Regions from separate parts of the Homo sapiens genome. Here regions 1, 3 and 4 are each linked to region 2. Evidence: fine-mapped expression QTL. A gene starts in region 2. Each other region holds a variant in brackets. All regions are shown on one strand. Distances are from middle to middle.

Region 1 (2,500 bases), 120 kb before region 2:
AAGGAGGCCAATCTCCTCTTTTATACTTCTCACAAATTACTATAATGTCATGCTCAAATTATTTGTTCAAATCATCTTGGATTAAGTGGAAGTTTTATGAGTGTTTCTTATACTATTCTTGCAACCTTTCTATATGTTCAAAAAATTTGAATGGTTGGGGAAAATAATCTTTGATGAGAAAAATCGGGGAGGTGTTGGATATGTCTATTACCTTGATTGTGGTGATAGGATCACAGGTGTTTACATATGTCCAAACTCATTAACATGTATACATTAAATATATGCAGTTCTTTGTATAGCATTATACCTCAATACAACTAATAGTCTGTGATGAAAATTCAAGGAATATAACCAATATTTTTCTCCCTCTGCTATGTACCAGATGCTCCTTAATCCTTCCAAAAAGCAGCCCTTTTAGATAGGCCCTTTGATCATTTTATAGGTGGGAAACAGGCATCTCAAAATCATGTCCAAGATCACGCAGCTGAGAAGTAGCAGATTCTGGATATGAATTTAACTCCTTATGTCGTTTCCACCAGACCATGTAGCCTAAATATTACTTCTCACTGGTGTACAGCTGGTGATTAATAAATGCTTATTGAATTGAATTAACTGTACAGAGATGAAATCACATGGCTATCTACCCAGGGAAATTATAATAATTATAGAGATTAAATTTTATTGAGAACTATGTGCCTGGCATTGCATCAGATAAGCCTTTATTATATATCTCAATTAATTGTCACAAAATTTGTTTTTGACATAGCTACAATTATGTTCCTCATTTTAAAGATGAGTGAAATAAAATCCAGACAATTTAAGTAACTTCTCCAAGGCCTTTGTTTTTCAGCCTATTTTCTGTCTTATCCATAGTGAGTCTATTCTATTGATCTGTCCTCAAATTCACTGGTTCAGTCCTCTATCATCTCCATTGTGCTACTGAGCCCATCCAGCTAGGTTTTACTTTGGTTACTGAATTTTTTCAATTCTACAATTTTCATGTTTTTTTAATGACTGCTACTTCTTTGCTTAGATTTCCTAATTTTTTATTTGTTTCAAAAGAATTTTTTAATTGTTTCTGGGGAACTTTTATAATGACTGCTATAAAATATTTGTCTGATCACTTCCACATCTGCTTGCTTCTCTCATGCATGTTGTGATCTTCCTGGTTTTTAGAATGACACATGACTTTCTATTGTATTCTGGGAATTGTAGATATTCTATTATGAAACTCTACACCCTATTGAATCTTCTGTTTTTAGCAGGAAGTCCCCTTGGGAAGTGCAGTGCAAGGGTTGGGTGGGTGTGTACTTCCAAGTTCCCACTGGGCCCTGAAAACCCTCCCTTGGCAAGAGT[G/A]GGACACTGACTCACACTGCTTCATTGCAGATAGGTTGTTCCTATTCTGCTTCCTCTTCGGCTCTGGTGACACCTTCCTGGTGAAACAGGACACCAACTCCCACCCCACTGGGCTCCACTGACACAAGGTAAGGAGAGGGAGGGAAGCAGAGCACCAACTAGCCTGCCTCCCATCACATAATTCTGTCTTGTTGCTACTGGATGGGGGTGGATGCTCAGCTCCCCACTTGGCCCCACTAACACCAGAAAAAAAAGTGCAGCACGGATGAACCCCAGCATGTACTTAAGTCTCATTGCTGCTGGGTCTAGATGGAGACTCAAATCACCACTGGACCCCACTGACACCAACCTGGCAGGAGAATTGCACAGCCTGGTTTCATTTGGTCCTGCTAGCACCATCTGGTAGGAGAATGGAATCTTCTGCCCAGCAGGGGGTAAGGGGTAGAGGGGCATTTTTCCATTGGTGGTTGGCATTTGTCTAGAGTAGGGTAGGTACTGCCAAAATGCTTCCTGGTCCTTTGCCTAGAAACAGGCCTTTGTCAGAGCTTTTTATGTCTGTGCCTGTTTGTGGCTCTGGTTTAAAGGCTTCTACAGCACCTGTGCAAGATACTCAGGAGGAAATAAGAGAGCCCAGGAGCTCACCACAGTGCCATTCCTCAGGTCCTGAAGTCCTGGGCAGCTCGGCCTTCTTTCGCTTTTCAAAGACTTCCAATGCTGGTGTGTTGTATTAAGCCCAAGATTTTTAGTTGTAAAGGACCTACGAGGAATGTATCTACCCCATCTTGGAGGAACCAGAACGATCTAAGGTCTTATAAACTCATAAATAGTGAGGCCAGAATTTGAACCCAGGATGTCTAGTCACAGGAACTGTTTTTTGTTATGCTAAAACTAGTAATAATAAAAACAATTATATATTAGCTTGCTAGGGCTGTCATAATAAAATACCACAGAGCAGGTAGTATAAACAACAGAAATTTCTTTTCTCACAGTTCTGGAGGCTAGAAGTATGAGACCAAGGTGTTGGCAGGGTTGGTTTTTGCTGGGGCCTCTCTCCTTGGCTTGTAGATGGCTGCCTTCTTGCTATGTTCTTATAGGCTTTCCTCCATATGTGTCTGTGTCCAAATTTTCTCTTATTACAAGGCTA
Region 2 (2,500 bases):
GGTCCCGGCTTTCGTTCAGGGTGTCCCCAAACACCTCCTTGGCCAGCGACGTCTTTCCGCAAACGGTGATGCGCGCCACTCGCCGGAACTTGGCGTCCGCCTGCGCGTCCCGCCCGATGGTGTAGGAGCCGCGGTAGCCGATGGTGATGTAGCCCGAGCGCCGGCTGCCGTCCAGCGACTGGGACGGCGTGAGCAGCGGGCCCGCCGCGCCCCCGGACGGACTGCGGCTAGCCAGCTCCAGCGTGGGCGACGGCGCCCCGGCAGAGGCGCCCTCCTGCTGTTCGGGCTCCGAGTAGCCAAGCGGCAGCAGCTCGTCACCCAGCGAGCCCTCCTTGTGCACCCCGCGCCGCGAGGGCGGCGGCCCCGGGCCGGGCTGCTGGGGCGCCCCGAGGCGGCGCACGAGCTCTGGCAGCTCGAAGTACTCGGCCTCGCGCTGCAGCCGGCTGCGCTCGGGGAAGTAGTCGGGCAGCACGAGCTGCAAGTCCCGCAGGTAATCCAGGATGTAGCGGAAGAGGAAGCCGTCCCGGTCCAGAAAGAAGCGGCCTTTGCTGTCCCGGGCCAGCTCCTGCGGCTGCTGCTGCGTGAACATGCGCCAGAGCAGCGAGTCGGGCACCGACACCACCGTGCAGCGCCGGGTCACGTACACCTGGCCCCCCACGTTCAGCTCCACGATGTCGGGGAAGAGCGGTGGCTCCGCGGAGGACGACGAGGAGCCACTGCCGCCCCCGCCGCCGCCCCCGTTGGGTAATCCACGTGTGCTGTCCGCCAGAGCCATGACAGAGAGGTGGCCGGGCCGGGACAGTGGCAGGAAGCCGCGCTGCACTCAGGAGCTGCAACCGCCTTCCCCGGAGCCCCGGAACCCGGACGCTCGCTCAGCCCTGCGCCCCGCCGCCGCCGCCGCCGCCACCGCCGCCACCGCCACCGCCGCCACCTCCTAGAGCCGCGCGGAGCCGAGCGGTGCGAGCGCGCCGCTGTGCGCCCCCTTGAGTTCCAGTGCGCTCCGCCCGCCTTGCCCGCGCGCTCCAGGCGAGTGCCGGGTCGCGGCCCGCGCGCTGCTTAAGTAGAGCCGCCTGCTCTGGTGCCGTGGCGCGCAGGAGGCGTGGGCGGCGGCGGAGCCTCGCTTACCGGGCGAGGGGAGGTGGGGAGCGGGGACTCGATTTGCATCTTAAACGCGGACGCCACGCGGGGCTGCTGGCTCCACCCCGGCTCGCGAGCGCTGGGGGCGCCCGGACTCCCACCCGCTCCCCACCCACCAGCCCCGCCCCGTGGTCCCGCCCAACTTTCTCCCTCTTCCGAAGAGGACCCGCCCGAGACTTGGCGGCTTCGGAAGACAGCTCCTTGGAGGGACAGTCACCGCGCCCCCTCCCCTCTCGCCCCAGCCCGCACCCAAGGACTCTGGAAGGAGGACGTGAACTTTCGGAAGCCTGTCGCCCCGGGAGTGGAAATGCGTGGCCGCCTCCGGCCCTCCCGCCTGCGGAACTGGGCGCTTCCAGCAGTGCAGCTGCGGCCTGCCATCGTTGGTTGTCGTGTCACTGAAAGTAGAGAGACGCGAAAAACCTGGAGAGACGAAAGAGCCGCCCCAGTCCGAGCGCAGCCAGATTTTGTTCAAGTTGCCTTGCAGCCAGCCTGGAAAATAAATAAATAAACCTAGAAACAAAAAGCAAACCTCAGTGTCCCGCAGTAGGATGCTTTACGATAGTTTATTTTCTGGCTGCAGAGACAAAATGAGATGAAGCTTCAAATCTGCTCTTAATTGCAATTCCCTCTTCCCGCAGGGCCTTCGAGGCACTTCACTTCGAAGTGAAGGGGTAAGACTCCGGAACGTTCGGTCTCCGGGTCCCATTCAGCCTTCGTTGAATCGCGCCCTTAGACTCACAACAGTTGCAGATCTAACGTAATTTTTAAAGCCACCTTTGGCGCCTGCATGTTTATCCTTCCAAAAGTCCAGGCGCCCCTTCTCTCCCGCATGCCTCGGTCACTCTTCGGCCCTGTCCAAGTTCCCGTCAGTCTCAGAAAGGGATATTTATATATCTGAAGGCCCTTGTCTGGATCCCATCTCTCAACTCCTGCTGCCTACACGTTTGCTTTTCCCCCTCGGACTGCAGCCCACAGAACCGCCCCCTCCCCCTGGAAGCTTTCCCTGGCTTCCCAGGTGGGTGGGGCCTCTGGATGGCTCCCTACACACTGTCTGCGCTGCTCCCAGCACGTTCTGAAATGTCATATTTATGAGTGATTATCTGATCACTGATTTGGGTATGAAAATAAGTAAGAGCTCCTGAATGCTGCAAAAAGAGAAGAGTGCAGAGGAGGGTGTCAAGAAATGATTGGGTCACTGAATGTTTCTTGTGTACCTGCTATTATTTGCAGGGCACCAGGGAGTGAGGAATGCAAAGGCGAATAATCTCCAAAGCGCTTTCAGTGTAGCCCAATAAGCAAAGGGTCAGGGGTCTGCGCAGTTATCACATCAGTTTGAAGTATAGACCACACATCAGGATAAATC
Region 3 (2,760 bases), 150 kb before region 2:
GTTATGACCAATCAAGGTAAGCAGAGGTGATGTATGAAACTTCTGAGAAGTCTTCTAAGGCAGAGAGCATATCCTTCTTCACCCTTCCTTCATCCCACTGCCCAGAACATCACAGTGATGGCTAAAGCAGGAATGGCTCTTTTGGAACATGTAAATGAAGCCTGCACCTTAGGAACTGTGGAGGTGAGAGCAGGAAGGGGCCCAAATACCTCATACCAGCCAGGAACTGCCTCCCTCTCAACTTTTCACATGAGAGAAATATCATGTGTGTTTAAACGTATTTAAGTTCTCTGTCATGTGCACACTGGTGTAATCTTATCTGATACAGGACTTAAAACCTGAAATTGGAGAGATTCGTGACAACATTTAAAAATATTGCAATGGCTTAGTAGATGCAATCAAATAGTTGGCATTGAGAATTTAAGCACTGAGGTCTGGAAAGCTGACAGCATTCATTTTGCAGTGGTAAAACCCTTGGTCAAAATGAAACCCTCTGACCTTAAAAGGCAGATGACCTGCTGACTGAGGCTGCAGTGTAAGGAAAACGTAGTGTTTGCTAGCTCCTTCTTGCCACCTTTTGCAAAATTACTCAAGGTCGGAGCTAATGAGTCTGCAAGCAGAGATGAAGGAAACATCACTTGGCTGAGGGAAGCACTCTCTGCTTGTGGCCTCCCCTACAACTTGACAGAAAGACTCATAATCTGAATCCTGGCAGGGTTGAAAAAGTCAACATATGTACCCCAAAGTGAAGAGGGATTTTGTGGCAGCAGCAAAGCAGTAGCCTTAGCAGGAGATAAGAATGGTGTCCTGTCCTACAAATCTTATGAGCTTGCAAGCCAAAAATAAAAATAAAAGTGGTGTTTTGCTAAATAAATCCACTGTTAAAGCCATCATTAAGTTGGTAGAAGGGAAATAGGAAAAGCAAAGCCAAGAGATCAGTAAATTAAAGGCCAGAGACTTTAGAGTTAAATATAATCTCTCAGGGCCAAGGCAAGGGTGAGAAAGAAGAAGGCCCGGGGGGCCCAGTGTGGTGGCTCACTCCTATAATCCCAGCATTTTGAGAGGCTGAGGTGGGTGGACGGCTTGAGTCCAGGAGTTCAAGACCAGCCTGAGTGACAAAGTGAGACCCTGTCTCAAAAGAAACAAAACAAAACAAAAAAGGAAGTGCCCAGCACACAAAACTAAAGAAGCCCTCATTCTCAGGCTTGGGCAAGGGCAGAGCAGCACCTGACAGTGCATGCCTCCTTCCACTTTGTGCTTTGGGCACCTTCTTTGCCTCCACCTAGTCCAGGCCTCTATCATCTCTACATAAGATATTTCACTGTATGTTTCTTACCTATGGAACTGACCAGAAGCAAAGCAATTGTAAGCCTTTTTGTACTGCTAAAGCAACCTCAAACCTAGCCTACAAAAGACAGTGACAGATCAGTCCTCAAAGCAATGCTCAGGTCCTGGAACTACATCGTGGGGACTTATGCAGCCACAAGGCTTCTGCAACCTTCAGTTGGGCATTCTCTGAGGC[T/A]CACCTCAGAATCAACATGGGGACAAATGAACAAGGAATTAAAAATGAGAGAGCAAACCCAGTGGCCACAAGAAACAACAAGCAAGAGAGAATATCCTCCATGGACTAGATTCAGGACTTCCCAAGGGAAAAACCATGGCGCTTCCTCTAATGCCAAGGCAGAGAGTCCCACCCAGCAGGTAAGACAATTGCTGTGGAACAATTACTGCCATTGGTTCTCCACTCTTTTTTTTTTTTTTTTTTTTTTTGAGACAGAGTTTCACTCTGTCACCAGGCTGGAATGCAGTGGCACGATCTCGGCTCAATGCAACCTCCAACTCCTGGGTTCAAGGGATTCTCCTGCCTCCACCTCCCAAGTAGCTAGGATTACAGGTGTGCGCCACCACACCCAGCCAATTTTTGTATTTTTAGTAGAGACAGGGTTTCACCATGTTGGCCAGGATGGTCTCGATCTCCTGACCTTGTGAGCCGCTGGCCTCCACCTCCCAAAGTGCTGGGATTACAGGCATGAGCTACCGCACCCAGCCTCCACTCTCTTTTTCTAAATGGGGCTTTTGTCATAATTGTGCTCTTCTTACTCTGCCTTGGTATATTGGATGAGTATGGGGGAAGGGACCTATGCAGTTCAATTTCTGTGCTGCTATGGCACACAGAGCTGCATCTAGAACTGATGACAAGGTTTTCTAGTTATGGAGCTCAGTGCAGTTATTGGATGGTCTTATGGGTTGAATTGTGTCTGCCCCCAAATGCCTGTGTTGAAGTCCTAATCCCCAGGACCTCAGAATGTCGCCTTATTTGGAAATAGAGCCATTGCAGACGGAATTAGTTAAGACGGGGTCATACTAAAACAGGTGGGCCCCTAATCCAGTATGACTGATGTCCTTCCAAAAAGGGGAAATTTGGACAAGACAGCATGCAAGGAGAACACCATGTGAAGTGAAGGCAGAGACTGAGGGCTGTTTCTACAAGCCAAGGAAGGCTAAAGACTGCCACAAACCACCAGAAGCCAGGGGACAGCATGGGACAGATTCTTCCTCACAGCCGGAAGAAGGCACCAACCCTGCCAACATCTTGATCTTGGACTGTCTAGCCTCCAGAACTGTGAGACAAATTTCTGTTGTTTAAGCTATTCGGTTTGTGGTACTTGGTTATGGCAGCCCATGTGAATTAATACAGATAGGATTTGGGCATTATCTGCTCTGAGGAGAAGGTAAGGGTGTAAAGAAGAAATCATTGAG
Region 4 (2,500 bases), 64 kb before region 2:
GGTGGGGACACAGCCAAACCATATCAGAAGCCAATTGAATCTTTGGCAAAATGTTGCTGTGGTGGACTGGTGCATTAGTCCATTTTCATGCTGCTGATAAAGACATACCCAAGACTGGGCAATTTACAAAAGAAAGAGGTTTAATTGGACTCACAGTTCCATGTGGTGCAGGAGGCCTCACAATCATGGCAGAAGGCAAGGTGGAGCAAGTCACGTCTTAAGTGGATGGTGGCAGGCAAAGAGAGCTTGTGCAGGGTAACTCCCCTTTATAATACCATCAGATCTCATGAGACTTATTTGTATCACAATAACAGCATAAGAAAGACCAGCCCCCATAATTCAATTATCTCCCACCAGGCCCCTCCCACAACATGTGGGAATTATGGGAGCTCCAAGATGAGATTTGGGTGGGGACACAATTCCAAACCATATCAGCTGGCACCCAGCTAGGGTAAGCAATGTGTGTTATCCACAAAAAGGACAGAGGAGGAGTGGGCAGGCGTCAAGCCTTACCTGTCTGTGATTCCCACTTCCCTCTCTGCTCCTGCTCTTGCTTCCCATCCTTGATCACGGGACCTTTCTCGCTTTCCACTCTGCTTCAGGCACTAAACCACAGAGGATACCCTATTGCTCTCTGCATTTCCATCTTCCTTTCTGCCTATCTGTCCACTCGCTTCATTTCCTTTATTATGCTAGAGATTCCAAATCACCAGGAACCCTGAGTTTAAATTTCAGGCTCCACATACTGTGTTCAAGGTAGTTTACTAGGGGAGCCAGGGAAAAACAAGTCAGCAGTTAATTCTTCAAGCAAACACGCTGGCAGAAACAGATATGACCCTTCAGCTTCTCTCACTAATCTGGAAGCACTGGTTTTTATCTGAATAGTGTTGATGATGTGTTGGGTACCTTCTGAGACCTATAAATCCTTATGACTACTCCATCAAGTGAATGTCATTATTCTCATTTTGCAGATAGGAAGCCTGTGTAACTCAACTGAGGGCACACAGAATAAGGGACAGACCCAGGATTTGAACCCAGGCAGACTAGCTTCAGAGACAGTGCTCTTAACCACTAGCTAGTTACTGAGACATGTCCATTTTATAATGCAAACTTAATCATGATCTACAGAAAGGGTATATTCTAAAATTCTTAAAGCAAATTTTCACAAAACATTTTATTTTAATACGGAGAATGGTTCAATGGAAGAAAGCTTATTAATACTTCTGTCTGATGGAATCAACCCAAATGCCCATCAATGATAGACTGGATAAAGAAAATATGGTACATATACACCATGGAATACTACGCAGCCATAAAAAG[G/C]AACAAGATCATGTCCTTTGCAGGGACATGGATGAAGCTAGGGCCCTTTAAGTGTTTTTCCTTTGTCATCTGGTACGATGTTAAACTCTGTCAGTAGAGGGCTCTGGAGAAGCATCACAGAAGGAAAGTATTTAGTTTCCTGGTTCTGCTGCATGGCCTCCAGGCTCCTTTAGACTTCATAGCTTCTCCAGGCTCCTCCTACAACACAGCACAACACATGTGGCTTCCCAGAGCCCAGCACCTGCAGTGGAGCAGCTTCTCCAGGGCTCAGCTCCCACAAGGTACAGTGGCCAACATCACCCAGCAGCCAGCAGTACCCCCAACAACCCCCTTGGGCAGATTTGTAGCAGAGTTCCTCTGGTGAGATACCTCCTTGTGAACAGCTGTCTCCAACACCCTGGACAGGAACTATCAAGTTCCTGAGGGCTAATTTCTAGATAATTTTGTCAGCACAGTATCACAGGGACTTGTCTGCCATCCAGTCAGCCACAGCTATATCCTCTCCAACAAGGTCTGGATCTCAGCCCTTTGATACACTTAGCGTATGTGCATTTTCTATTTCCTTCCGACCTGGACGTCTACTCAAATATGCTTTACCTCTTGGCTCTATTATTTTCAAAATTTAGGTTTCACTATTTTATTGTGTGTATACTTTCTTTAGTCTACTTTAAATTATTTGTGTAATGTAAAGTCTAGTCATGGAAATATGTATGCAGATGAGGGTCATACCTATTTAACTTGCTATACTCCATTCCCAGAAAAGAACCAGGCTCAATGCAGTAAACCAATTCTTTCTGATGACAATAATGAGGCTGATGATCCAAAGTCATTCCATCCTAGGTTAGACTTTCCTATAACTGAAATTAGACCCTTAGAAGTTTAAATATTAGTACAAGGAATGACAAAGCCATTAGAGACACCCAAATCAAATTCTGTTTTCCTAAACAATGCCTGAAATTCATGTGGCCTGAGCCAGGCTAGGAACTGATTCAGGAGATACTAACTCCAGAGAGATGGAGGGAGGTAGATGTGGAAAACTGGAATGAGACACAACAGAAATTTCAAACTGGAGTCACAGAGCAGAGGGTGACAATTTGAGATTAACACAGAAGAGGTTGGTGAGCATTGCAATGATTAAGAAATAAGGTCTCAGATGAAATTCCCAGGGTAGCCCCACATT

Evidence for each region. PIP is the estimated chance that this variant, and not a neighbour inherited with it, causes the effect.
Region 1: its variant is fine-mapped to the expression of KCTD12 in whole blood (TOPMed, PIP above 0.99).
Region 3: its variant is fine-mapped to the expression of KCTD12 in whole blood (TOPMed, PIP above 0.99).
Region 4: its variant is fine-mapped to the expression of KCTD12 in whole blood (TOPMed, PIP above 0.99).

Annotation. Positions count from the first base shown.
Region 1 is chr13:76,763,274-76,765,773 of GRCh38, forward strand. All of the region lies in intron 1 of LOC105370265 (a long non-coding RNA gene), which reads right to left. Among named protein-coding and RNA genes, the nearest start is that of KCTD12, 120 kb to the right of the region's middle. The variant G/A (reference allele first, on the strand shown) is at 1,357.
Region 2 is chr13:76,885,374-76,887,873 of GRCh38, forward strand. It overlaps KCTD12 (potassium channel tetramerization domain containing 12), which reads right to left and starts at 1,032. Exons shown (of 1, transcript NM_138444.4): 1 at 1-1,032. The coding sequence starts at 775. RefSeq lists an enhancer at 47-546 and silencers at 160-429, 830-1,259.
Region 3 is chr13:76,735,361-76,738,120 of GRCh38, forward strand. The region is part of intron 1 of LOC105370265 (a long non-coding RNA gene); the gene reads right to left. Among named protein-coding and RNA genes, the nearest start is that of KCTD12, 150 kb to the right of the region's middle. The variant T/A (reference allele first, on the strand shown) is at 1,523.
Region 4 is chr13:76,821,454-76,823,953 of GRCh38, forward strand. No RefSeq gene overlaps it. Among named protein-coding and RNA genes, the nearest start is that of KCTD12, 64 kb to the right of the region's middle. The variant G/C (reference allele first, on the strand shown) is at 1,321.